2 separate regions of the Homo sapiens genome follow, and region 2 is linked to region 1. The links come from fine-mapping of genetic effects on gene expression. Tissue or cell type: whole blood. Region 1 holds a variant in brackets; the other region holds the start of a gene. All regions are shown on one strand. Distances are between the middles of the regions.

The links. PIP is the estimated chance that this variant, and not a neighbour inherited with it, causes the effect.
Region 2: it holds the start of PDXDC1, and the variant in region 1 is fine-mapped to the expression of PDXDC1 in whole blood (TOPMed, PIP above 0.99).

Annotation. Positions count from the first base shown.
Region 1 is chr16:15,029,274-15,037,534 of GRCh38, forward strand. It overlaps PDXDC1 (pyridoxal dependent decarboxylase domain containing 1), which reads left to right. Exons shown (of 23, transcript NM_015027.4): 16 at 678-783; 17 at 2,462-2,633; 18 at 3,588-3,706; 19 at 4,005-4,126; 20 at 5,013-5,105; 21 at 5,184-5,280; 22 at 6,176-6,280; 23 at 6,743-8,261. The coding sequence ends at 7,002. Among named protein-coding and RNA genes, the nearest start is that of NTAN1, 23 kb to the right of the region's middle. The variant G/C (reference allele first, on the strand shown) is at 3,376.
Region 2 is chr16:14,971,805-14,979,804 of GRCh38, forward strand. PDXDC1 (pyridoxal dependent decarboxylase domain containing 1) reads left to right here and starts at 3,222. Exons shown (of 23, transcript NM_015027.4): 1 at 3,222-3,416. The coding sequence starts at 3,396. RefSeq lists a silencer at 2,088-2,382 and an enhancer at 2,540-3,303.

The sequences.
Region 1 (8,261 bases):
GCCGGGAGCCCCAGGCAGAGTCTGCCGAGCATCTGCAGCTGGCAGTGTGGAGCCAGGCCTGCACTTTGATAGCGTTTTGGGCACTGAATAGCAGCTCTAGGATTTGAGTCTGAAGGGTCTTGTGAACAGTGTGGGATGGCGGCAGCAGCAGTTCTAGCCAATGCTGGACACGCCCAGCCTAGCAGGGTTGGCAGATAAGTCCTGGTACATCCATGCTGGGGCTCAGCACAGCTGTGAGAGACCACAGAGCTGAGTGTCTCAAGCAGAAAGGAACTGGTCATAAACGAAATGAATCAATGCAGGTTACTAAGCAGTGTCAAGTAGCATGTTTTATGACAACAACTACAACTCCCTGCCCGCCACTAGGAGAAAAGACGCTGGGGGCAGACCACATGTCAGCAGTGGGTGTCGCTTAGTAATATATTGTGGGTCATTGTTATTTTCTTCTTTTTGTTTACTTGTATTTCCTAAATTTTTCTACAATGAACTTGTATTAATAAGAAAAAACCATAAAATTTACTGTTTTTAAAAAGCTGCTCTAAGTAATCAGACAGTCAAAAGAGCAGGAATCAGCTCTCCAGGAGGCTCTTTGGTCTGGGGCCGAGGGGATGAGGGTGGGTCCTGAAGACGTCTGAGTCCCTTGTTACAGGAGGGTGTTCATTGTGTCCTCCTCACAGCTGGGAGAACAGCTGAAGCAGCTGGTGCCTGCAAGCGGCCTCACAGTCATGGATCTGGAAGCTGAGGGCACGTGTTTGCGGTTCAGCCCTTTGATGACCGCAGCAGGTAAACCAGGCTTGGTGGACATCCCTTGCTTTTGTTCTGGGGCTGCTGGGTAGATTAGCTTGCCCTTATGATACTCCATTCTCCTAGAGTTATTAGCAGCTCTTTTTGGAGGGGCATTTTCTTTTCTTTTGGGCTAAATTTAGGTAGATTAGCATTCCCATGTAACTTACCAGAATCAGAATGAGAATTCAGAAGTCACCTGAATTGGCCGGGCATGGTGGCTCACACCTGTAATCCCAGCACCTTGGGAGGCCAAGGCAGGCAGATCATCTGAGGTCAGGAGTTCGAGACCAGCCTGGCCAACATAGTGAAATCCCGCCCCTACTAAGAATACAAAAAATTAGCCAGGCATGGTGGTACACACCTGCAGTCCCAGCTACTTGGGAGGCTGAGGCAGGAGAATCACTTGAACCTGGGAGGCCGAGGTTGCAGTGAGCTGAGATTACACCACTGCACTCCAGCCTGGGGGACAGAGGAGACTCCATCTCAAAAAAAAAAAAAAAAAAAAAAAAAGTCATCACATGAATTCCTTTTTTGTTGTTGTTGAGACAGGGTCTTGCTCTGTCACCCAGGCTGGAGTGCAGTGGTGCGATCATGGCTCACTGCAGCCTTGACCTCCTGGGCTCAAGTGATCTTCCCACCTCAGCCCCCGAGGAGTTGGGACCACAGGCATGAGCCACCACACTGGACTAATTTTTGCATTTTTTGTAGAAATGGGGTTTTGCCACGTTGGCCAGGCTGGAATTCCTATATTTTGATGTCTTGTGACTCTCGATTTTCCACTACAAGGGTTCTCACTCCCCACTGCACATTAGAGTCATCCGGGAGCTTTACACACAACCAGTGGCCGCCCACCCCCAGAGATTCTAGAATGGAGCCTGGGGATCTGTGTTTTGGTTTTTATTTTTTTTTTAGAAACAGGGTCTCATTTGTCACCCTGGCTGGAATGCAGTGTCTTCACCATAGCTCATTGCAACCTCGACCTCCTGGGCTCAAGCAATCCCCTGCCTCAGCCTCCCAAGGAGCTGGGACTACAGGCGAGCACCACCACATCTATTTTTTTTTTTTTTTTTTTTTTTCCATAGAGACGTGGTCTCACTCTGTCACCCAGGCTGCTCTTGAACTCCTGGCCTTAAGTGATCCTCCTGGCTCAGATTCCCAAAGCACTGGCCACTATAAGGATTGCCTGGCCACAGCTCTAGATACTTAGTCTCTAAAACTGCAAAAGTAAGCCAGTGAGCCCTGAGGCCCGGCGCTGTCACCATCTCCCTGTCCTTCCTGTGTGGGGACAGCAGCCCACCACAGTACTTCCCTTTCTCTCAGTCATAGGAATGTACAGAATCTGTGGTTGCCTTTTTGTGCTGAACCTATGGTGTGATGTCTCCAGCCTGCCTGAAGTAGGCTTGCTGTGGGAAGAGTGATTTCTAACACTGGAGTATGTCATTGTGGGCCACATCTGTGAGAGAAACACTCCACACCTGCTACAGCCAGCTGTGTCTGTTTCTAACCCTAATTCTTCCATATCTGTGTTGAGGGCCTTTTTTTGTTTAAATCTCCATGGCTCCCGGTAACTGGAGTACCTCGAGCTTTTGACCTTCCCAGTAGTGGAAGAGGGAGCCCTGCCCTCTTGTCATTGGCCATCTCGTGAGCATTTCTCTGACATTGTGAACATCTTCAGTTTTAGGAACTCGGGGAGAGGATGTGGATCAGCTCGTAGCCTGCATAGAAAGCAAACTGCCAGTGCTGTGCTGTACGCTCCAGTTGCGTGAAGAGTTCAAGCAGGAAGTGGAAGCAACAGCAGGTCTCCTATATGTTGATGACCCTAACTGGTCTGGAATAGGGGTTGTCAGGTAAAGTCTTGGCCTGCCGCTTGATGTTGGAGACTTTTCTGTATAAAGAACATGAGTGGGTCATTTTCTGAACCACCTTAGAAATCCAAGATGAACGTGTAGTCACAATATGCTTAACGAAAATGCAACTCGGTTTTCTGGGCATTTACAAAAGCACAGTGCAAGCAGGCAATTTGGCCAGCGTGGCGCTCAGGGAGGGGAGTTGCTGAATGTTCTGTCTGTAGGTGCCGACTCTCAGCTACCTAGGAGAAGATGCCAACAGGTATATATCACTCACTGAGAATGGTTACTATCCAGGGCATATAGAGAATTGCAAATCAGTAAGAAAAAGAACCCAGCTCTCGGGGAGAGAACTGGGTGCAGTCCTATGGCTGCTTTCTCGCCTTCAGAGGTGAGGCAAACCTCTTTTTGTATTGCCCATGAGACTTCCAGACCTTGTATGGAACTAAAGACTTAGGCTTTCAGCTGGGCACGGTGGCTCATGCCTGTAATCCCAGCACTTTGGGAGGCCAACAGGAGCATAGATGACTTGAGGCCAGGAGCTTGAGTCCAGCCTGGACAACATGGCGAAACCCCATCTCTAGAAAAAATACAAAAATTAGCCAGAGGTGGTGGTGCACACCTGTAGTCCCAGCTACTCGGGAAGCTTAGATGGAAGGATCAACTGAGCCCAGGAGGTGGAGGTTGCAGTGAGCCAAGATCATGCCACTGCACCCCAGCCTGGGCCACCAAGTGAGACCCT[G/C]CTTTAAAAAAAAAAAAAAAAGGCTTTCCTGTGACTTTCTCTTTACTCCTGGCACACTTCCAGAAAGTTTGTGGTCTGGAGACACTCGCAGTAGCTCTTTTGCCCACTGGTTCCACTGCATTGTCTTGCTAATATTTAGAGGTTTCTAATCCTGTATCAGAAGAGACATTTGATCTTTTAAGCTGAAATGCTGTGGTTTGATGTTGTTTTAGGTATGAACATGCTAATGATGATAAGAGCAGTTTGAAATCAGATCCCGAAGGGGAAAACATCCATGCTGGACTCCTGAAGAAGTTAAATGAACTGGAATCTGACCTAACCTTTAAAATAGGTAACTGCTTACTTTGTAAGTCAGCTGTGGGGTTTGGAAGGACACTTGGTAACCGGCTTTGAAGACGACGGCTCATCCCTTAGCGGGCTAGCGCCTCTCGGGCTGGGTTCCAGGCGAAGATGCGGTTCTGAGACCTCCCTCCCCTTCTGCAGCCTTGCCAGGCCTTTCTCTCCGCCCTTAGAATCTCCATGGAGGAGACCCCTTTGTGTGTGGTCAGGACCCTGAACAGGAGAGTAGGTCCACGTCTCACCCATGACAGAGGACTGAGAAACTCAAGTTTGTCTCGTTACCTTTGCAGGCCCTGAGTATAAGAGCATGAAGAGCTGCCTTTATGTCGGCATGGCGAGCGACAACGTCGATGCTGCTGAGCTCGTGGAGACCATTGCGGCCACAGCCCGGGAGATAGAGGAGAACTCGAGGGTCCGTAGCACCCATCAGTGTTCATTCCTCTTCTGAGTTTTGTCCCACCAAACAGCAGGGGCCACGAGGAAAGCAGCTGCCCTTGGGATGTCTGTTCGTTGTCTCTCAAAGTCTGTCAATGTTTCCTGTAAGCTGGGCCTTGTGCCAGGTGTCAGAGATGCCAAGTAGGTTTGACACAGCCCATGCCCCAGTGATCTCACAAGCTCAGGGGGAAAGATCCACATAGCCACGCTGTGTAGTAACCCTGCCTTAGAGAAGAGGGCGGGTAGCTGGACACTCAGGCAGACACATTCACCCCTGCCACCAAGGTCAGGGAGGACTTCTGCTCTGGAGCTGTGTCCTGAGGGTGAATGAAATGGGCTGTTGTATGTGTGGTTCCCCCTACACCCCTTCCCTATAGCACTTCCCACCAGGAATAGACCTACTGCTGTGGGTCCCTTAGCATGGAGGACCAGGATACAAGGCTGATAAGGTATCCTCCAAACAGATGATTACTTCCCTAAAAATCACTCAAAAGGAGAGAAGAGGGACCAAGGTAAGACTGCTCTGAAAGGAGAGAGACACGAGCCATTGGACATGCGGCCGAGAAGCCAGCTTCATTCCTTTCTGGGTGGACTCCTTAAGGTTTCTTTCCAGCCTGACTTTATGACTTCTCTGTTTTCAAGAATACGTAGCAAATGAGGCTGGTCACCAAGGTGTGTCTGCCTAGGCCTCTATGAGCATGTTATCTGCTTGTCTTTGAGTTTCTGTTCGTTTTACGCCGGCTTTTCAATGCAGGATTTCATTGACCTGCTTTTGAAAAATTCCCTCAGTGCTGTGTTACTAGCTCTTCTGGGCCCCAGGTGAGAACCTTAAACAAGTAATGTCTTTCTTGGTCTTGCCACAGCTTCTGGAAAACATGACAGAAGTGGTTCGGAAAGGCATTCAGGAAGCTCAAGTGGAGCTGCAGAAGGCAAGTGAAGAACGGCTTCTGGAAGAGGTGAGGCCCCCGATGGGCAGCAGGCTGGGGGAGCCGCCGTGAGGCCAGGTGGCCCTGAACTCTGGTCCTGTCTTGCAGGGGGTGTTGCGGCAGATCCCTGTAGTGGGCTCCGTGCTGAATTGGTTTTCTCCGGTCCAGGCTTTACAGAAGGGAAGAACTTTTAACTTGACAGCAGGTAGGACGGCATAGCCTCTTCCCAGGTCTTGCTGACCTTGGGAGGTTTCACCAAATGCCCTTGGGTCCCAACACTTCCCACTGAGAATCCCGCCCTGGTTCCCGTTCTTCATCACTGGGTGTGGGCCGGACATCTGAGGAGACAAGTTCTGGTGTGCCCTGTCCTCCTCCCCACCGCACCCTGGCGGCTGAAACAGCAAGGAAGCAGCTACCCACTCTCCACAGCTGTCACCACCGCAAGGCCATGAGGACACGCCCACTCAGCCGTGCAGACTCTCAGGGTGCTGTGTCTTGGGCATTTTGGTTCAGGGTTAATACTTCTTGTCTTCATGTGTGTTCTGCCCCAGCAGAGGACAGCTTTTGCAAGTGGCAATGCAGAGACTGAAGCATGGAGTGCTGGCACGGTTTATTTTGAACCAGGCAGCCAGCAAGCGTTTCAGCCGCTGGAATGTGGGGAGGGTGTTAACAGTCCGTGACTCCTTTCCTGTTCTACCAAGGAAATAATTTCCTACACTCGAGCCCCTTCCTTCATTCTTTCCCAGGAAACGATGACTCCATTGTCATGAAAGCAAAAGATAATCTGATTTCTAATCTGCCAAGCCTTAGCCTTCAGCAAAAAGGCACCCACTTCTTGTGGCTACAGTACGTTTCCCTGTTGGGCCTGGCTCCCTGGGTGTGCTTACGCCATACTGCTGGCGGATGCTGGCGGTACTGGCCCTGTGAGGTGGCTTTCTCTAGCTCACGGCACATTCATAAGTGCCCTTCTCTCCACCAGTCTGTGGCAGGCTCAGTGGCTGGAAGGAGGTTATTGGGGAGCAAGGCTGTGTGAGGGCAGGTGGTGTCTTCAAGGGCAGCCTGTGCCTGTAGCTTCTACCCAGCCCTCTCCTCTCCCGCAGGCTCTCTGGAGTCCACAGAACCCATATATGTCTACAAAGCACAAGGTGCAGGAGTCACGCTGCCTCCAACGCCCTCGGGCAGTCGCACCAAGCAGAGGCTTCCAGGTAAGTGACGCCTCTGCACCGAGTTCAGGTAACAGGTTTCCCCTGTTGACTGTTACTTGCGTTTGTTTTCTGGGTTCTTGAACTCCAGAGGTCTATTTCTCTTAAGACCAACTACTACCATCTCTTTAACCATCTTGGTAGCCGTGGGATTCAGCCTTGAAGAAATCCCACGGTAGTGCGCTAAGGGGAAGTTGGGGTCTTGAAAGATGACATTGTCACTGTGGTGTTTACCCTCCTGGGCGTTTCCTAATGAAGATGACCTTAGAGTTCCCCGGCCTGGGGAGCATGTTGGTGTCAAGCTAGCAGCTCTCGGTTTTCTCATCTCCTAAAACACCTCAGAGCCAGTAAAGGTTTCTGCTGAAGCTGTGTTGTGAAATAAAGCAATTATCTGTTGCAGAGACAGCCTGTGTTGCAGAAGTATCCTCACTGAGTTTCAGCGCAGTCTGTCTGCCCTTTCTGTAGGCCAGAAGCCTTTTAAAAGGTCCCTGCGAGGTTCAGATGCTTTGAGTGAGACCAGCTCAGTCAGTCACATTGAAGACTTAGAAAAGGTGGAGCGCCTATCCAGTGGGCCGGAGCAGATCACCCTCGAGGCCAGCAGCACTGAGGGACACCCAGGGGCTCCCAGCCCTCAGCACACCGACCAGACCGAGGCCTTCCAGAAAGGGGTCCCACACCCAGAAGATGACCACTCACAGGTAGAAGGACCGGAGAGCTTAAGATGAGACTCATTGTGTGGTTTGAGACTGTACTGAGTATTGTTTCAGGGAAGATGAAGTTCTATTGGAAATGTGAACTGTGCCACATACTAATATAAATTACTGTTGTTTGTGCTTCACTGGGATTTTGGCACAAATATGTGCCTGAAAGGTAGGCTTTCTAGGAGGGGAGTCAGCTTGTCTAACTTCATGTACATGTAGAACCACGTTTGCTGTCCTACTACGACTTTTCCCTAAGTTACCATAAACACATTTTATTCACAAAAAACACTTCGAATTTCAAGTGTCTACCAGTAGCACCCTTGCTCTTTCTAAACATAAGCCTAAGTATATGAGGTTGCCCGTGGCAACTTTTTGGTAAAACAGCTTTTCATTAGCACTCTCCAGGTTCTCTGCAACACTTCACAGAGGCGAGACTGGCTGTATCCTTTGCTGTCGGTCTTTAGTACGATCAAGTTGCAATATACAGTGGGACTGCTAGACTTGAAGGAGAGCAGTGATTGTGGGATTGTAAATAAGAGCATCAGAAGCCCTCCCCAGCTACTGCTCTTCGTGGAGACTTAGTAAGGACTGTGTCTACTTGAGCTGTGGCAAGGCTGCTGTCTGGGACTGTCCTCTGCCACAAGGCCATTTCTCCCATTATATACCGTTTGTAAAGAGAAACTGTAAAGTCTCCTCCTGACCATATATTTTTAAATACTGGCAAAGCTTTTAAAATTGGCACACAAGTACAGACTGTGCTCATTTCTGTTTAGTATCTGAAAACCTGATAGATGCTACCCTTAAGAGCTTGCTCTTCCGTGTGCTACGTAGCACCCACCTGGTTAAAATCTGAAAACAAGTACCCCTTTGACCTGTCTCCCACTGAAGCTTCTACTGCCCTGGCAGCTCGCCTGGGCCCAACTCAGAAACAGGAGCCAGCAGAGCACTCTCTCACGCTGATCCAGCCGGGCACCCTGCTTAAGTCAGTAGAAGCTCGCTGGCACTGCCCGTTCCTACTTTTCCGAAGTACTGCGTCACTTTGTCGTAAGTAATGGCCCCTGTGCCTTCTTAATCCAGCAGTCAAGCTTTTGGGAGACCTGAAAATGGGAAAATTCACACTGGGTTTCTGGACTGTAGTATTGGAAGCCTTAGTTATAGTATATTAAGCCTATAATTATACTCTGATTTGATGGGATTTTTGACATTTACACTTGTCAAAATGCAGGGGGTTTTTTTTGGTGCAGATGATTAAACAGTCTTCCCTATTTGGTGCAATGAAGTAT
Region 2 (8,000 bases), 58 kb before region 1:
GTCGAAGCTACTCCGGGAGGCTGAGGCAGCAGAATCACTTGAACCGGGGAGGCAGAGGTTGCAGTGAGCCAAGACTGCGCCGTTACACTTCAGCCTGGACAACAGAGTGAGACTCGTCTGGAAAAAGAAAAAGAAAGAAAAAGACAGGTCTGTTAGCAGCACATAAAGCCATATGTCAGTAGAGATTAAACCTCCCCACAACTGATGGCTTCATGCTCCAAACTGTACAATATTCTGCTTATCTCTCTTCACTAGTCCATAGAATGTTGCATTATAATGTATCAGTTTTCCTATCTGTGCATCCACAAGCCAAATGGTTTCAACTTTTTTTTTTTTTTTTCGGGGATGGGGGAATCACAGACTTGAGTATATAATGAAGACAATGGATGTTTTCCCCAGAAAAATGCACTCACTCACACACAAAATGTTGAGTATAGTTTCAGAGACCTCCATCTGCATCCCAAAGTAAAAACTTCTACCCAAAATAGTGTTTTTCTTCAGGGCAGAGAGCTTGTCTTTGTTTTGTGTGTGTGTGTGTGTGTGTGTGTGTGTGTGTGTGTGTGTGTGTGTGTAGACGGAGTCTTGCTCTTGTCGTCCAGGCTGGAATGCAGTGGTGCAATCTTGGCTCACTGCAACCTCCGCCTCCCAGGTTGAAGCGATTCTGCTGCCTCAGCCTCCCGAGTAGCTGGGATTACAGGCGCACACCACCACACCCACTAATTTTTCTATTTTTAGTACAGACGAGGGTTTCACCATGTTGGCCACGCTGTTCTCCAACTCCTGACCTCAGGTGATCCGCCCACCTCGGCCTCTCAAAGTGCTGGGATTACAGGCATGAGCCACCGCGCCCAGCCTTTTTTAAATTTTTAAATTTTTTATTATATTTTGTTTTTGAGACAGAGTCTCGCTTTGTCGCCCAGGCTGGAGTGCAGTGGTGCGATCTCTGCTCACTGCAAGCTCCGCCTCCCGGGTTCACGCCATTCTCCTGCCTCAGCCTCCAGAATAGCTGGGACTACAGGCGCCCGCCACCATGCCCGGCTAATTTCTTTTTGTATTTTTGGTAGACACGGGGTTTCACCGTGTTAGCCAGGATGGTCTCGATCTCCTGACCTCGTGATCCGCCCGCCTCGGCCTCCCAAAGTGCTGGGATTACAGGCGTGAGCCACCGCGCCCGGCCCAGCCTCTTATTTGTATTTTTATTGTTTTTTGAGATGGAGTCTCGTCTTATTGCCCAGGCTGGAGCGCAGTGGCACAATCTCGGCTCACTGCAACCTCTGCCCCCGGGGTTCAAGTGATTCCCCTGCCTCAGCCTCCCAGGTAGCTGGGATTACAGGTGTTTGCCACCACGCCCAGCTAATTTTTTGTATTTTTAGTAGAGACGGAGTTTCACTCTGTTGGCCAGGCTGCTCTTGAACCAGCCTCTTATTCTTTTACATACTATTTCCAGCACAACTGTCCAAGATGGCAGTCAATAAATGTTTGGCTAAATATAATAAATAATACGGTTGATTATTTCCACTTTTTCATGTTGGGTTTTCAAAGTCTACTTTTAAAACAGTAAAGTTAACTTTTCTCTCTAGTATTTGTTTTGTAGAATCTATTATACTTTGTAATGTAATCCACAGAAACTTGGAGGTGACTTTAGTAAAATTTACTAGTTTTGAATGATACCCATGCTGAGGTGCTCAGAGGTGAAATGTACTAACATATATCGATGGATGGATATATGGATGCATATGTGATTAAAGCAAATATAGGGAAAATTAACTGTAGAATCTAGGTAGTGGGTATATGGTTGTTCACTGTACAACTGTTTAAACTTTTCTACGTTTGAAAAATTTCATAACACGTTGGAAAAGTGACTTGTTTTGCTCAAGCAGGGGTACATTCAATCTTCAATTCTTGAAAGACATAAATCTATCTTTCCTTCTGTTTGGAAAGCTCTTTAGAGAGTCAGAATAATCCCCACAGTACAGTCTAAACCAGCACACAAGGGTTTTTTGGTAGAAAATAATTTTATTAACATAACCAGGCAATTTACCAAATACAACGTAGATAGCTCAAAACATGGAGTTACTGCGCTGAAAATGTGACCCTGTTTACACAGATTTCGGGACGAAGAGTATAAAACAGGAGAGAAAAGGAGTAAGATTGTGGTTGTAGCGTCATCGCAGAGGTGAAGTGTTCCATTGATTGCCACTGTGGTAGTCTATATCAGTTTCCCACATTAAGGTGGGAGGAATCTACTAAGCAAATGTACGCCCTCCCCATTCGTTCGAAACACATTGCAGTAAAATTGCAAAAGTGGCCGGGCGTGGTAGCTCATGCCTGTAATCCCAGCACTTGGGGAAGCTGAGACGGGAAGATCGCCTGAGGCCAGGAGTTTGAAGCCAGCTTGGGTAACATAGTGAGACACCCCTACCTTCTCTATTAAAATGAGATTTTAATTTTTTTTCTCTTCAGTTCATCGGTTAACAAGATAAAAAAATTAATAAAAAATTAACTTTTTAAAACATTTAAAGTAAAGTAGGAGTGGAAGCAGTATGTGGACTCATGGGGCTTGGGTCTGAATCCTACCTAGATCGGCACTGCGAAATGGGGATAATGATCTCCTAGAGCTGCTGAAATAGGAAAATGGAAGAACAGCAGCTGATGTATTAATATTATCATTATTACTACTACCCATTACCTGACAAGTGATAATTGTGACATGAAAGAGGCTGGACCGGTTGTTACAACAATTTTTTCCGTCTAGAATTCGGCGGTAAGGTCTGAGACAACACCTCAGCTTAGATCAGTGCCTTCTCTGAACAGCGTTCACTAAGCAGCCCCCAACCCCAAAACCCCCAAGTCCCCGGGCGCCGAGGACGCTGCGAGTCCTGCGCATGCGCAAGGTTGCCCACTCGCTCACCGCCTCCTTGGCGAATGGCCTGTTCCATTCTCGAGGGATGCCGGCGGGAGGTGAGGCGGGAGACTTGGAAGCCTGGGCCCGGAAGTGAGGTGCGTCACTAGTATTTCCAGCCTTTCACTCCATGAATAGTACTTTGTGATTATTATACTTCTACCTTGATGATTGCAACAGGCTGCTGGAAAGAGTTTGGTGAACAATCCACCGGGCATCCTCCCCCCTTCACCTGCGCACGTTAGGGAGGGCCGGCGTGGCGCCCAGGTACGGAATCCCAGAGGGCTCCGCCCAGCGCTACGGGGCCCCGCCCCGCCGCCTCTCAACCATCAGGTTCGGCAGCCCGCGGCGCCGCCTGGCAGCTCCTCCTCTTCTCCGCCCCGCCGGCCGCGGGCGCGGGGGACGTCAGCGCTGCCAGCGTGGAAGGAGCTGCGGGGCGCGGGAGGAGGAAGTAGAGCCCGGGACCGCCAGGCCACCACCGGCCGCCTCAGCCATGGACGCGTCCCTGGAGAAGGTCCGTGCCGGGAGGGGGCGATGGGGACGGTGCTGCGGCCCGGGGCTCCCGCTTCCGAGGCAACTGTTTCCCAGTCGCGAGCTGCCATTGTGACCCGGACAGGGGGACGCGGGCTGACAGGCCCTGCCTGAGGAGGCCTCGCCGGGAGGGCGGCTGGGGCCCGGGCGCGTCACGGGGCCGGGTGTCTCTTGGGTCCCCGTGGGCCGAAGAGGCTGGGCGGGGTTCGGTGGGGGCCGCGACGGGCCCGGAGCCCAGGACTGGGACCGCGGGGCCGACCTTGGGCCCTGCCGAGGTTCCGCGAGTGGCCGGCCTGAGCTCGGCTGGCCCTTTCGGAGGACCGGGAGCTCTCCGTTGGCGGCCCCAGATGCTCCCGGAAAGAAGCCGCAGTTATTTCAGAGCCAGCTGCAAACCTGTAGGTTTTTCTTGGTCTCCGAGTTAGGAATGAAAATTGCCAAAGCAGTGGTTTTCCAACTTCAGCCTGAGTGGGAATCACCTGGGGCCTTTGGTAAAATGCGGAGGTTCAGTCCCGGGGTCAGAACCTCTGGGGGCGGGACCGGGAACTGCGTGTTTAACCGCCACCGCCCCGCTCCCACTCCGCCCCACGCAGGTGATTCTGATGCTGAGCCTGCGATCACCGGGCGAGAACCTCTGAGTTCCAGAAAGGGGTGGGTGTTGCGTAGATTGCGAATTGAGTTTTGGGGATCGCAGCTGCTCCACAACTTCCTGGCTCCCCCATTCCAGTGGCGAGGAGGGATCCCCGAGTCAACTCGAAATCCACTGGTAACAGAGCCTACCTCTGGTTTCCCCTTGGGGGAACGGCAGCGTGGTGTACCAGGCTGACTGCTCTACCATGTGAAACGGATTCTCATTGTCCCAGTGTTAGGGCTTGTAAATGGAAACCAGTTTGGGTTTCTTCACGGATTCCTGCTTTCGGTACCTGACATTCTGCCCTCCCTCAAAGCCCTTCTGTCTGTTCCAGCTTGGGAGTCTGCTTGTCCAATCCAGTGCATACCCGGTTTTTCATGCATGTGGCATTCAGGAGCAATGCTCGTGTTTTAAGACGGCTACATTTTAATTTTGAGCTGGTAGGAATAATATATTTTGTCTTTTTTCAAGGCAGCAGCTGCTGTAGATTTTGTTCACTTGTCACTGGAGAGTTGAAGGCAATAATTGTAAAGGTTGGGCCAGATGTCTTCATGTGCTCACAGTGGTATAGCCTACTCCTGGGTTGCTTAGCATAAATTGGGTGGAAGACAAGAAAAAGATAATATGGTTTTCTTGTGCCATCTCTGGGGTGAATGTTACGTGTTTTCCTGGCTGGGAATAAAGTCTTTCCGGTCGTCTGATTAGCAGGGTGTCTACCTTTTGGTACTTTGAGTTTGTCCAGATGAGTGGTTCTTAAAGCAGGGGGCAATTTATTTCCCCAGGAGACATTTGGCTATCTCTGGACATAGTTTTGATTGTCACAATGGGGGCAGGGAGGTGCTGCCGGTACCTAGTGGGTAGAGGCCAGGGACGCCTCTAAACATCCTACGTTGCACAGGACAGCCCCCCACGCTGGAGAATTCTCTGGCCCAAAATGTCAGCAGTGTTGAGGCTGAGAAATCCTGGTCAAGATCATGTTTATAACACCAGCAGTTGAGTACAAAACGATGCAAAGTGGTGTTATCAATTTCCTAAGAAGGTGGGTGGGCTTCATGTGATTGTAATTGGAATCCTGAAGAACTGGGGTGATCTTTCCTCCAGGAATAATTAGCCTTTATAGGAAAATCTGCAGGGTGGGTCAGAATCCTGCTTTAAATATTACTTTTCTGGCATTTGATCAGTAGGTTACAGTAGTTGCTCCCTAAGTGTTAATTGATGATAAAAGATCTTAAACTCTCTCAATGAGGATCGCAAGAGGGACTGAAATTCCAGTGTGTTTAATATTGGAGCATTCACAAAAATTGTAGTGATCTTTTAGGAATTCAGAACGTGTGGGCTGGAGGTTTCTGCCTTAGGTCAATGTGAAAATTCTGAGTGTAAGTTTTTCAGAACTATGGGACTTACTTTTTTTTTTTTTTTTTTTTTTTTTTTTGAGAGGGAGTCTCGGTCTCTTGCCCAGGCTGGAGTGCAGTGAGGCGATCTCGGATCCCTGCAACCTCCGCCTCCCGGATTCAAGTGATTCTCCTGCCTCAGCCTCCCGAGCAGCTGTGACTACAGGCGTGTGACACCACACCCGACTAATTTTTGTATTCCCAGTAGAGATGGGGTTTCACCACGTTGGTCAGGATGGTCTCAAACGCCTGACCTTGTGATCCTTCAGCCTCAGCCTCCCACGGTGCTGGGATTACAGGCGTAAGCCACTGCACCTGGCCGGGACTTAGATTTATATTCCCTGAAGTAATACAGGGCCTTAGATGGAATAAACGATTTATATTGGTGCTAATTGGGCAGAAAAGAAAAAGCATTGCTGTAATATGAATGTTGATGACTTTATGTTCTGAAAAATAGTCTGGGTCAAAGTGAAACATTTAATTGTGTTCATTATTCCTGTTTCTTTGAGGAATAGACTATCCTGCGTTAAATTCTACATTGTTAATATAAACTCAAGAGCTATGTGAGCAGTTGTAAATGATCCCATTTAAACTGATTGTTGCATAATTTATACTGATTACAGAAACCACAATGTTATTTGATGCTCACCCTCTAAAATTTAAAATAATATCTCTCACTTTAAAATGTATGTGAAAAAACAAAAACAAAATGTAGTATGCGATCATCATTTAGTAGAATCACTCAGTGATTTGGATTTGGTCCAAATATAGTTCTGTCCCTTGCTTTTTCTGTTATGTAAACGTGCAGACCTGTGATAACAGAGCCATTTTCTCGTCACGATTTGCTTTTCTTCCACAACAGTATCAGTTTTCTTGTATCTGAGATCAGTGATGTCCCAATAAATCAGATGGGTTAATTGAGGAGGCAAAGGAAATTCAAACTTAGGAGAGTAGGAGTAGGGGCTTTGCCCCTGCCCCCCACTGTATGTCCAAGGCATAAGGAACAAGGCCCTGTAGCAGAGTCTCACAGTGTGTACTTATGTTAATATTCAATAAGGAAAATGCCACAGGAAGTAATCACTATAATGATGAAGATTTTAAGTTATTAAACACACCTTCCAGTAAAAACCTGTTATATTATTATTATTTTTGAGACAGGATCTCTCTCTGTCACCCAGGCTGGAGAGCCGTGGTACAATCTCGGCTCACTGCAACGTCCGTCTCCAGGGCTCAAGTGATCCTCGCGCCTCAGCCTCCTGAGTAGCTGGGACTACAGGCACTCACCCCCACACTGAGCTAATTAAAACAATTTTTTTGTTCTCGAGACAAGGTCTCACTATATTGCCCAGGCTGGTCCCAACCTCCTGGGCTGAAGCCATCCTCTTGCCTTAGCCTCCCAAAGTGCTGGGATTATAAGCGTGAGCCACCGTGCCAGGCCAAAACCTGCTACTCTAAACTTGTAGAATAGCCCAGACCTTTTTCTGTTGGTTAAAAGATCTCATTCTTCCTGGGTATTATGTTTAGGCAAGGTATACTGCAGTTTGTTTGCATTTACTTTAATTCTGTCCTTGAGCAAACTTAAAGCAGTTTCTCAGCGTCAGCACTAGTGATATTTTGGGTCAGATAATTTGCTGTTATGGGGGCTGGCCTGTGCATGGCAGCATGCTTAGCAGTGTCCCAGACCTCTGCTCAGTAGATGCTAGTCGCACTCCCTACACCCAGTTGTAACAATAAGAAATGTCTCAAGATGGGGGCAGTTGTCCCCCAAGGGGTAGAGGGAATTGCCTGTCATTGAAAGTCCCTAATTTAGGGAATCTAGAGCTACAGTTCCGGTTTGGTCACCACTAGCCATATTTGGCAGTTTACATTGAGATTAAAATTAAACACAATTTAAAATTCATTTCCTCAGTCATGCTAGCCACATTTCAAGTGCTCAGCAGCCACATGTGGCTGATGTCTGCTACACTGGGCAGCACAGATGTGGAACATTTCCATCGCAAAGAAGGTTCCACTGGACAGTGCTAAGAGCTGGCAATTCGTGTTTTTTTTTTGAGATGGAGTCTCCCTCTGACGCCCAGGCTAGAGTGCAGTGGCACAGTCTCTGCTCACTGCAACCTCTGCTTTCCGGGTTCAAGCGATTCTCCTGCCTCAGCCTCTCAAGTAGCTGGGATTACAGGCACCCACCACCACACCTGGCTAATTTTTGTATTTTTAGTAGGGATGGGATTTCACCATATTGACCAGGCTGGTCTCAAGCTCCTGACCTCAAGTGATCCACCCGCCTCGGCCTCCCAAAGTGCTGGGGTTACAGGCATGAGCTACTGTGCCCAGCCAATTACTTGTTATATCTAATTCTCATCTCTGAAAGAGGCAACTTTGACCCTGTTTCTGACCTAAATCAGCACAACTCAGCCCATTTTTGGTTCTTGAACTCATCCTGAGCTAAGTGTTTCTTTCCTGCTATTTGGGACTGATTTTAGAAAATTCTTTGTCACCTTGCTGTTATGCTAGAGGTTTATAGCAGCATCAATGGAACATTCCTGATCAT